2 separate regions of the Homo sapiens genome follow, and region 2 is linked to region 1. The links come from fine-mapping of genetic effects on plasma protein levels. A gene starts in region 1. The other region holds a variant in brackets. All regions are shown on one strand. Distances are between the middles of the regions. Region 1 holds the start of CRISP2 (cysteine rich secretory protein 2). Region 2 has its middle 30 kb from the start of CRISP2.

What was found. PIP is the chance, under the fine-mapping model, that this variant and not a neighbour inherited with it causes the effect. The UK Biobank Pharma Proteomics Project read protein levels with antibody pairs (Olink). The fine-mapping took linkage between variants from a reference panel, not from the people measured, so its PIPs are less certain.
Region 2: its variant is fine-mapped to the plasma level of the CRISP2 protein (UK Biobank, PIP above 0.99).

Annotation. Positions count from the first base shown.
Region 1 is chr6:49,711,829-49,716,233 of GRCh38, reverse strand. CRISP2 (cysteine rich secretory protein 2) reads left to right here and starts at 2,691. Exons shown (of 10, transcript NM_003296.4): 1 at 2,691-2,759; 2 at 3,630-3,733.
Region 2 is chr6:49,680,954-49,685,358 of GRCh38, reverse strand. It overlaps a transcript of CRISP2 not described here. Among named protein-coding and RNA genes, the nearest start is that of CRISP2, 30 kb to the left of the region's middle. The variant C/T (reference allele first, on the strand shown) is at 1,797.

The DNA.
Region 1 (4,405 bases):
CTGCGTGGAAGCACTTAAAACCTTTGAGAGAATACAGTGTACCAGGGAAACTATTATTATGACTATCGGGAGGATAATACCAAGAGTTTGGAGTATGCTCTTTACCCAGGTTACCCATAAACCAAACCACCTAAAATTAAATAGATCAAAAAATGAGCTAAAGAGTCTACTTACTTAACTAAGCAATCTCTTCATTTATCCTCTACAGCTAAATCTCTATAGTCTTCATCTGATGTATTTCTCCATAGGCCACAAGTGCCAGCAGCTGCACAGATACTTCTCTATTCAGCCAATTCTATCATAATTTTCACAAGAGAATTTAAAGTCTGGTATTTAACTATATCCTATACAGTAGAATCTGCTATAGAGCCTACTATGAGGAATGCATTTCTAATCATTGCTTCTTTTACTCCAAACCATAGAAAAAGGAACTAACAAATGATGCCCTTCTAGAAAAGCAAAGGACTCCTGGCAATGTTCTTAGAAGTACCTGTACTATTCCTCTCAGTAATGGAGATCTACTTTCCATGTGCTCTCCAACACATTCAGGCACCAAACTTACAAGTCTTCTATTCTGGATTTGCCCTTCATACAAAATCTATCAACACTTTTTAAAAATCTCTTCATATTCCACCCTTTTGTCCTATTTCTACTACTACAAAATTAATCTGGGGAATTGTTACCACACTTATTTTTGCTGCCATCAATTTCTCAGCTCTGTAAATCACCCCATGCAGTGAGATCAGGTGGCTTTTATGAAACATTCTTTTGATCAAAGAATTTCCCAACCCTCCAAAATGTCAATGAAATTACTTTCCCATGTTATACAGAGAAGCAAATCTCCTTAGACTTCTATACAAAGTTTCCCCAACCTTTTCAACAGTCTTTCTGTCTTGAATATGCCTTGTGATATAATGATTTATCTGCTTTTGTTCTTCAACTCTTTCTCCCTTCAAATCAAGCCATACGCATTATTCAATAACAGTTCAAATGTCAAAACTTTCCTAGGTTTTACCCAGATCATATCAACTCACAGAACTCTCAATTACTGTATATATTTTTGGTCGCCCTACTTAGCATTAAACTACACTACCTAATAGTATTCTTTACTTATTCATATACATACTCCTTTCTCTCATAGTACTATGAGTCTTAGAAGAAAGAGATTTTATGTCCTTTTTTCTGTATTTTCTAAGAATCTATGTCGGGTCAATATTTACTCACTTAACAAATATTTACAAACTACCACCTATATTTGGTATTGTGTTAGTTTTGGAGATACAGCAATAATCAAGACAGACATAGCCAATTTCTGAAATTCAGGTTCACCAACAATATCTGGCACCACAGCGCTCAAGTTGCTCTCATTCTGATATCATCAATGTGAATATGGGAACAAGTAATAATTACAGGAATGACTCTTCTCCAAAAATGAAAAATAAGATATTCACAGTAAATGATAGACTATTATAGTGCTGAGAATGAATTGTTCGGCACTAGAAAGAAAGAACAAATAGGTAGGCAGAGATTTTGTGCATATAGGTATTTGAAATGTCCAATTAATAACTTAAGCAAGATATGGTGAAAACATGAATATAGAAGTGAGGGACAGATTGAGGACTAGATTTCATAAATATTTAGAAAGGCAAACTGTCAGTAATGAATTTTGATATTGGATGTAGATATAAGCGTTAAGCAGTCTAAATTCCAAAATTTTTAGTCAGTGCTGCATGAACTGAAATAAGCAGCAAAAGAAAACTAAAACAATGTCTGTGTGCTGATCCCTTGAAATTACCTTGTAACACTGCCAAAGGAAAATGGCACTGAGCACCAAGTTTGTTATAGTTTCAGTTGTGCCCAAGTGAGTCTCCAGAGTTGGTGAAATCTCAAGCCTCTTATTGCATGGCTTACAGAGAACCAAGGTATGACGGATATTAATCCTTGGCTTGACATCTTTTGACCCATCTCTCTTCCTCTAGGTCATAAGCGAATTCACTCCTTTTCGCTTTGAAAACAACTGTGAATAGAAGAAAATGCACCTATTACTCATCCGCCTTCTGAGAGAGAAAACATGTCTTTAACCCATGCTTGATACGTATGCTAAACTTGCAGCCAGTAGCCTTGGGTCAGGAGTTCTGCGTATTTTCATAAGAGTTGTTCCTGTTACTCTTCGTGAATTTTCTCACCATAAAACTGTTGCCAACGGGGAAGAGGGACAAGAACATGAAGTGTTTATGAGGGAGCCTGAAACTGACAACCTGTGTAACTGGAGTGCGTCGTTGGCATGACACTGGCAGCGCACTGCAAACTTAAGCACCTGTGGACTCCTAATTAGCTCTTTAAATTGAACTACATTAATTCAGGCATTCTTGTTTGAATGCGAACGCCTCCTTTTTCAAGCCACCCCCTGGGCAACCCGAATCCTTATATGACCTCCCTCCTCCTCCTAGTACGGCGCAGGTATGCGAACAGACATTTTCTTTCCTCATCAACTGGTGGTAATGAGAAAAAGAGAACTCTGCTTTTCACAAGGGAAAACGTGCAAGATTTTCTCCGTAGTAGGGGAGGCGGGGGCGATGGGAGGAGAGCAGCTCACGTAGGCAGATAGCGGCGATGAAAGCATAAAGCCCAGTGACGTCGCCCACACGTGGCGCCTGGCAAGTGAACAATCGCGGTGAGAGGGGCGCGCCGCAGCTCCTCAACGCCGCAACGCGCCGGCCCAACTGCAGGAAGGTCTGTGCTCTGGAGCCAGGGTAAATGTAAGACCCGGATTGGAGACTAGAAATGGCTAGGGACGGGGAGGTGGGGTGAAGCACAGGGGAGAGAACCATCGTTGAGGTGAGGGGGTTTCTGATCCTCCTTCGCTCCTCTTCCGGCATCTGGAGGGCACATAGCTAATGCCGGGCAGACTGAGAGTTCAATTTTGTTGCTTAGCGCCGACCTACCATAACTTTCAACATGCTTCTCTATGTTTAGTCTATTGAAACTCTTTACCTACCTTAAAAGAGAAATCATTCTAAGTACATAAGACCCATTGAATCATAGTAGAAGCCTGAAGTCATTTCTCAATCTGCTTTTTACGAAGTCAAATTAAGACTCTTAGTTTCTAATTGATGTTTTGAATGTACAGTTATTAGAAACTGTAATAACAATTAGAGTTGGGGTCATTGACTCTGCTGGACTTTATATCATCTATTGGCTTCCAGAATTTAAAAAAAAAATGAAGAGACAAAGCTGTTACCCCCAAATCCACGTAGTTAATACTTACCATGTGGGACACTGCTTATGGAAATGATCTTTTAAAGAATGGGTTGAAGTCCTAGATAAGGGGTTGGGAGTCTTGAAAAAAGGTTGCAATTTTCCAAGCAAGTTAGCCAACTAGTAGTTACTGAACTTCAAGAAGTCCACTTTTTTGTTAGTGTTTGAAGGAAATATCAGGGCGTTGAAATACAATCTGACCTCAGAAGGACAATATGGTCTTAACGCTGAAATCAAATAAATACAGTAAATTATTAGAAACAATACTAAACAATTGAGTCAAAATTTAAGTTTGTGACAAAGATTATAGATACCATCTATAAGGGTATTCTTCACATCTTTATTTTAAATATTTTGTTTCCTTGTTCTAGGGTTATAAAATTATACACCATGGCCCTCCTAAAGACACTCTAGGAAAACCATGTCATCCTGATCTTAAAACACCTGCAAGAAAGAGCACAGTACTTCACCATTAGTAAGTAGCAAAGAAAAAAAATGGTAGCCAACTTTTCAACTATATATCAATATGGGTTTAAAGGAATAAAATGTAATTATATGGAATAGAAAAAAATATTTTTCCTTGAATATACTCTCACCAACAGTGACATTGCTTTCATTGACTCAATGAAGATGAGTATAGGTTAGATGGTTGAGGTTATGAGAGAGAAGAGCAGCAAAGAGGAGAGTATGGCATCATGGCCTATTATAGAATTCTGGCTCATCAGATGCATACACTGGGTGATTGAGCTATACAAAACTCTTCAGGCTCCTGTGTATGGCTTTCAATGAGCTGATGAGGATACAACAGCCCAGATGTTAGAGCATTTTCCTAAAGTCAGCCAGAAGGTGTCTAATAGAACCAGGCCTTGAACATGTGAATCTCGAATTAGATTATACTGATTGTATTTTCCTATAACACCTGGAAGGAAACACATGTCTCTTAAACACTTAGTAATTAGCAATTCAATCAAACAGCATATGTTTATAGAAAGCTCTTATGAGCTCAACAAACTAGCAGACATTGCAAAAGATAATAAAAACATGAATAATTTCCGTTTATTTGTATTATGTGCATAATGTGTTTATTGTATTAGAGGTGTTACATACATTGTCCCTTCCAGTCTTCAAAGCAAAAACCTGTGATATA
Region 2 (4,405 bases), 31 kb after region 1:
ATAAGGACATAGACATCTCCAGTCACTGCAGAGACAACCTTTCCTTAGGATCATAAAAATGATTCATAAAATGATACAGTGTAACACCAAAGGGCGGAAATGCTGTCTTACGACTTTCTAAAGGAACACAGTGTGACTTTAAGTTAGAGGAAATTTCAGAAAACACCATTTCATGCTGCTCATATGAAGTGTCCATCTTTATCACTGCAGCATTGGTGGCCAGTGGCAAAGGCAGTGGGGGCTGATGAGGCAATGGCAGCCATGGGAGGCATCCGGGGAGCCCAAAACAGAAACTCATTTGTGAGACCTGGAACTATTGGCAGTGTGCTCACAGAGTTCCCAGGCATCAGAGTCCTTAGCATCCCAGAGCTGTGAAAGAGGCTGGAGTAGAGAGTAACAAAAGGGGATATGCTACAGAGGAGATGAAAGTTCTGTTAGTATGCATGCAAAAAGTCTCTATGAGCCAAAGGATACCCAGTACTAATTGACTGAAAGTTTAGACTTTCTGTCCCTTTCAATAGTAGGTAGAGGGGAAAACTATATAAGTGTGTGTATGTATGTGGCACACAAATCCAAACACATCCACATATAAAAACAATGAGAATGATCTTAAACCCCATGGTATTGAGAAATATGATTGTATAAGATACCCCTAATTTACATGTTAAAATTTTAATGCCATTGGATATTGATTTATTTCAAATTAAGTAGATTTCTTTTTTAAGTTAAGTATGTAAGATATTCAAGAGTAAGAGGTACTAATGATACTCAATACATTTTAATTTTCTTCTCTGCTTCCCCTTAGCACTGCAGAAGTTAATTAGAAAACATACTGTATCCCAGGGGCCATGCTGAATTCCTTATATAGTCGGTCCTCCATATCTGTGAGTTCTACGTCCATGGATTCAACTAACCACTGATCATCAAAAATAGTAGGAAAAAAGTACTATACAGATGGTTGCATATGTATTGAACATGCACAGACTTTTTCTTGTCATTATTCCCTAAAAAATACAATATAACAATTGTTTGTATAGGATTTAAATTGTATCTGGTATTATAAGCAATCTAGAGATGTTTTAAAGTATGTGGGAGGGTGTGTGTAGGTCATAACAAATGCTACACCATTTTATATAAAGGACTTGAGCTTCAGTGGATTTTCGTATCTTCAAAGGGTCTTAGAATAAATCCCCCATTGCTACTGAGGGACGATTATATTCATTTTTGCACTTTATCCTCCCAATATTCCTTTCTCTTTATTTTACGGATGAGGAAACAAGGATAGGAAGATTAAGTACTTTGCCCAGATACAATCAGCCAAGGAACATCAAAGCATGTACTCAGTACAGATATAGTAGGACTCAAAGTCTTATACTTTTAAGCACTACCACAATTCTGCTTCCTGATGAAAACTAAAATTAGCTCATAGCTTGAATGAAAAATATATTCAAACTGGACATTTAATTTGAAAATAAATATTTCCTTTATATAAAGCTCTTAGGTAGATTACTTGTTCTGTATTCATGAAAATGTGTTCACTTTTGACAATGTGACATTTAAAACCTTTAGTTCAATGGTAGTCAGGCTTAGAATATGTCTTTATAAATTACATAGTGACTTAGTCCTATCAACTTCTATATATATATATATATATATATATATATTTTTTTTTTTTTTTTTTTTTTTTTTTTTTTTGAAATGGAGTCTCACTCTGCTGCCCAGGCTGGAGTGCAGTGGCATGATCTCGGCTCACTGCAACCTCCATCCCGCCAGTTCAAGTGATTCTCCTGCCTCAG[C/T]CTCCCAAGTAGTTGGGATTACAGGCGCCTGCCACCGTGCCCGGCTAATTTTTGTATTTTTAGTAGAGGCGAGGTTTCACCATCTTGGTCTTGAACTGCTGACCTCGTGATCTGCCTGCCTCAGCCTCCCAAAGTGCTGGGATTACAGGCATGAGCCACTGCGCCCGGCTGTTTCTATTATATTAAAAACCCATAATTATAAAAATGGTGACAAGAAATGGATTAAACCTTGAAGGGTCCTGGTTGGGTGAACATGAAGGAGCCCTTTAGAGTGCTATTTACATAGGTATACACATGTTTAGAAATTAAATGAGCTATGCAATTAAGATTTTGTGTGCTGTATTGTATACACTGCATGTCTCTATTTATTTATTTATTTATTTATTTATTTATTTATTTATTTTGAGATGGAGTTTCACTCATGTCGCCCAGGCTGGAGTGCAATGGCGTGATCTCAGCTCTCTACAACCTCTGCCTTCCGGGTTCAAGCAATTCTCCTGCCTTAGCCTCCAGATTAGCTGGGATTACAGGCACATGCCACCATGCCCAGCTAATTTTTGTTTTTTAATAGAGATGGGGTTTCGCCATGTTGGCCAGGCTGGTTCTGAACTCTTGACCTCAGGTGATCCCCCCTTTTCGGCCTCACAAAGTGCTGAGATTACAGGTGTGAGCCACTGTGCCTGGTAACCTCAACTTGAAACAGGAAGAAAAGAAGGGAGGAAGGGAGGAAGGGATGGAGGGAAGGAGGGAAAGGAGGAAGAGAAGGAGAGAGGGCAGGAATGAGGGAAGGGAGGGAGGAAGGAAGGAAAAAGAAGGAAGAAAAAAGAAAGAAAAAGAAAGAGAAAAAGAAAGAGAAAAAAGAAAAAGAAAGAGAAAGAGACAGAAAGAGAGAGAAGAAAGAAAGAAAAGAAAGAAAGAAGAAAGAAAGAAAGAAAGAAAGAAAGAAAGAAAGAAAGAAAGAAAGAAAGAAAGAAAAAGAAAGAAAGAAAAAGAAAGAAAGAGAAAGATGGAGGGAAGGAGGGAGGTGGGAAGGAAGGAGAAGGAGGAAGAGGAGGAACAGGAGGAATAGGAGGAGGAGGAGGGAGGGAGGGAGGGATGGGGAAGAAGGAAGGAAGAAAGGGAAAGAGAGAAAGAAAATAAATAGATAACTAGAGTATGTTATATGGTTGCTAGAACTAAATCAGGTGTTCAGTTTGGACATGTTGAAAGTGTAGGCATAGAGAAGACAGTTGAATATATAAGGAGGGATTTAGTCTAAAATGGAGATAAAGATTTGAAAATCATCTTTGTATAGACGGCACCTAAAGCCACAATACCACCTGAGATTCCTGGGAAGTAAGTGAAACAATATGCTAAATCCCAGAATTTAAAAAAGTTTGTGAAAATAAGAGCAAAGGTCCACCAAAAGTGTCAAAAACAAGAAGATGAGGAAAGGATGAAATAGTATAGTATAGATGCCAGAGAGACAGATGATTATTTAACTTTTATTTTTTATTACTTTATTTCACGGAGATGGATCTTTAAACTCTACAGCCTGGCACAATTATCTGAAGGAGAAAAAGAATGATCTAACCTGTGAGGACATAGTAAATAATTATTTAAATGCTTGGGGGATATTAAAAAACATTTCAAGGTGATCATGAGATCACTGTCAGTTAACAAGGAATAATGACAAGGAGGAAAGCAACATATTGATTAACATATGACAAATGGAAAGGGCAAAAAAAAATCTTGAAGCTGGGCATGGTGGTGTGCACTTGGAATCCAAGCTACTTAGGAGGCTGAGATAGGAGGATTGCTTGAACTCAGTAGTTTGAGGCCAGCCTGGGAAAAAAATAAAAGAAAACTTTGGCATTAATCTATGAGAAATTCCTCCAATTTAAAGTGATTTCATCATTTTTAAACCATGATATTATATGTAAAACAGTAAAATATAATTTTTAAATTTGCTACACTAAATTTGTTTCTTTTTGATAGTTTATAAATATAAATCAAAATTGATTCTGTTTTATAAATCTATATGTTATTGCCCACATTTAATCTAAAGTTTCAGCAGAATTCATTAAGTACTTTGTTCAAATGTGGGTCTATATACTAATATTATTATGGATATCTTAATCTAGTTGAAAAAATGCTTAATCTAGTTGAAAAATTACTACAGGGCTTAGTAACCAAAACAGCATGATACTGGTAAGTACAAAAACAGATAAACAGACCAGTGGAACAGAATAGAGAACCCAGAATTAAGACAGCACACCTACAACTATCTGATCTCTGAGAAATCTGACAAAAACAAGCAATGGGGAAAGGACTCCCTATTCAATAAATGGTGCTGGGGTAACTGACTAACCACATGTAGAAGATTAAAACTGGACCCCTTCATTAGACCATATATAAAAATTAACTCAAGATGGATTAAACACTTAAATGTAAAACCCAAAACTATAAAAACTCTGGAAGACAACTTAGGAAATACCATTTAGGGCATAGGCATGGGCAAAGATTTCATAATGAAGATGCCAAAAGCAATTGCAACAAAAACATAAATTAACAAATGGGATCTGATTAAACTAAAGAGTTTCTGTACAGCATAAGAAATTATCAACAAT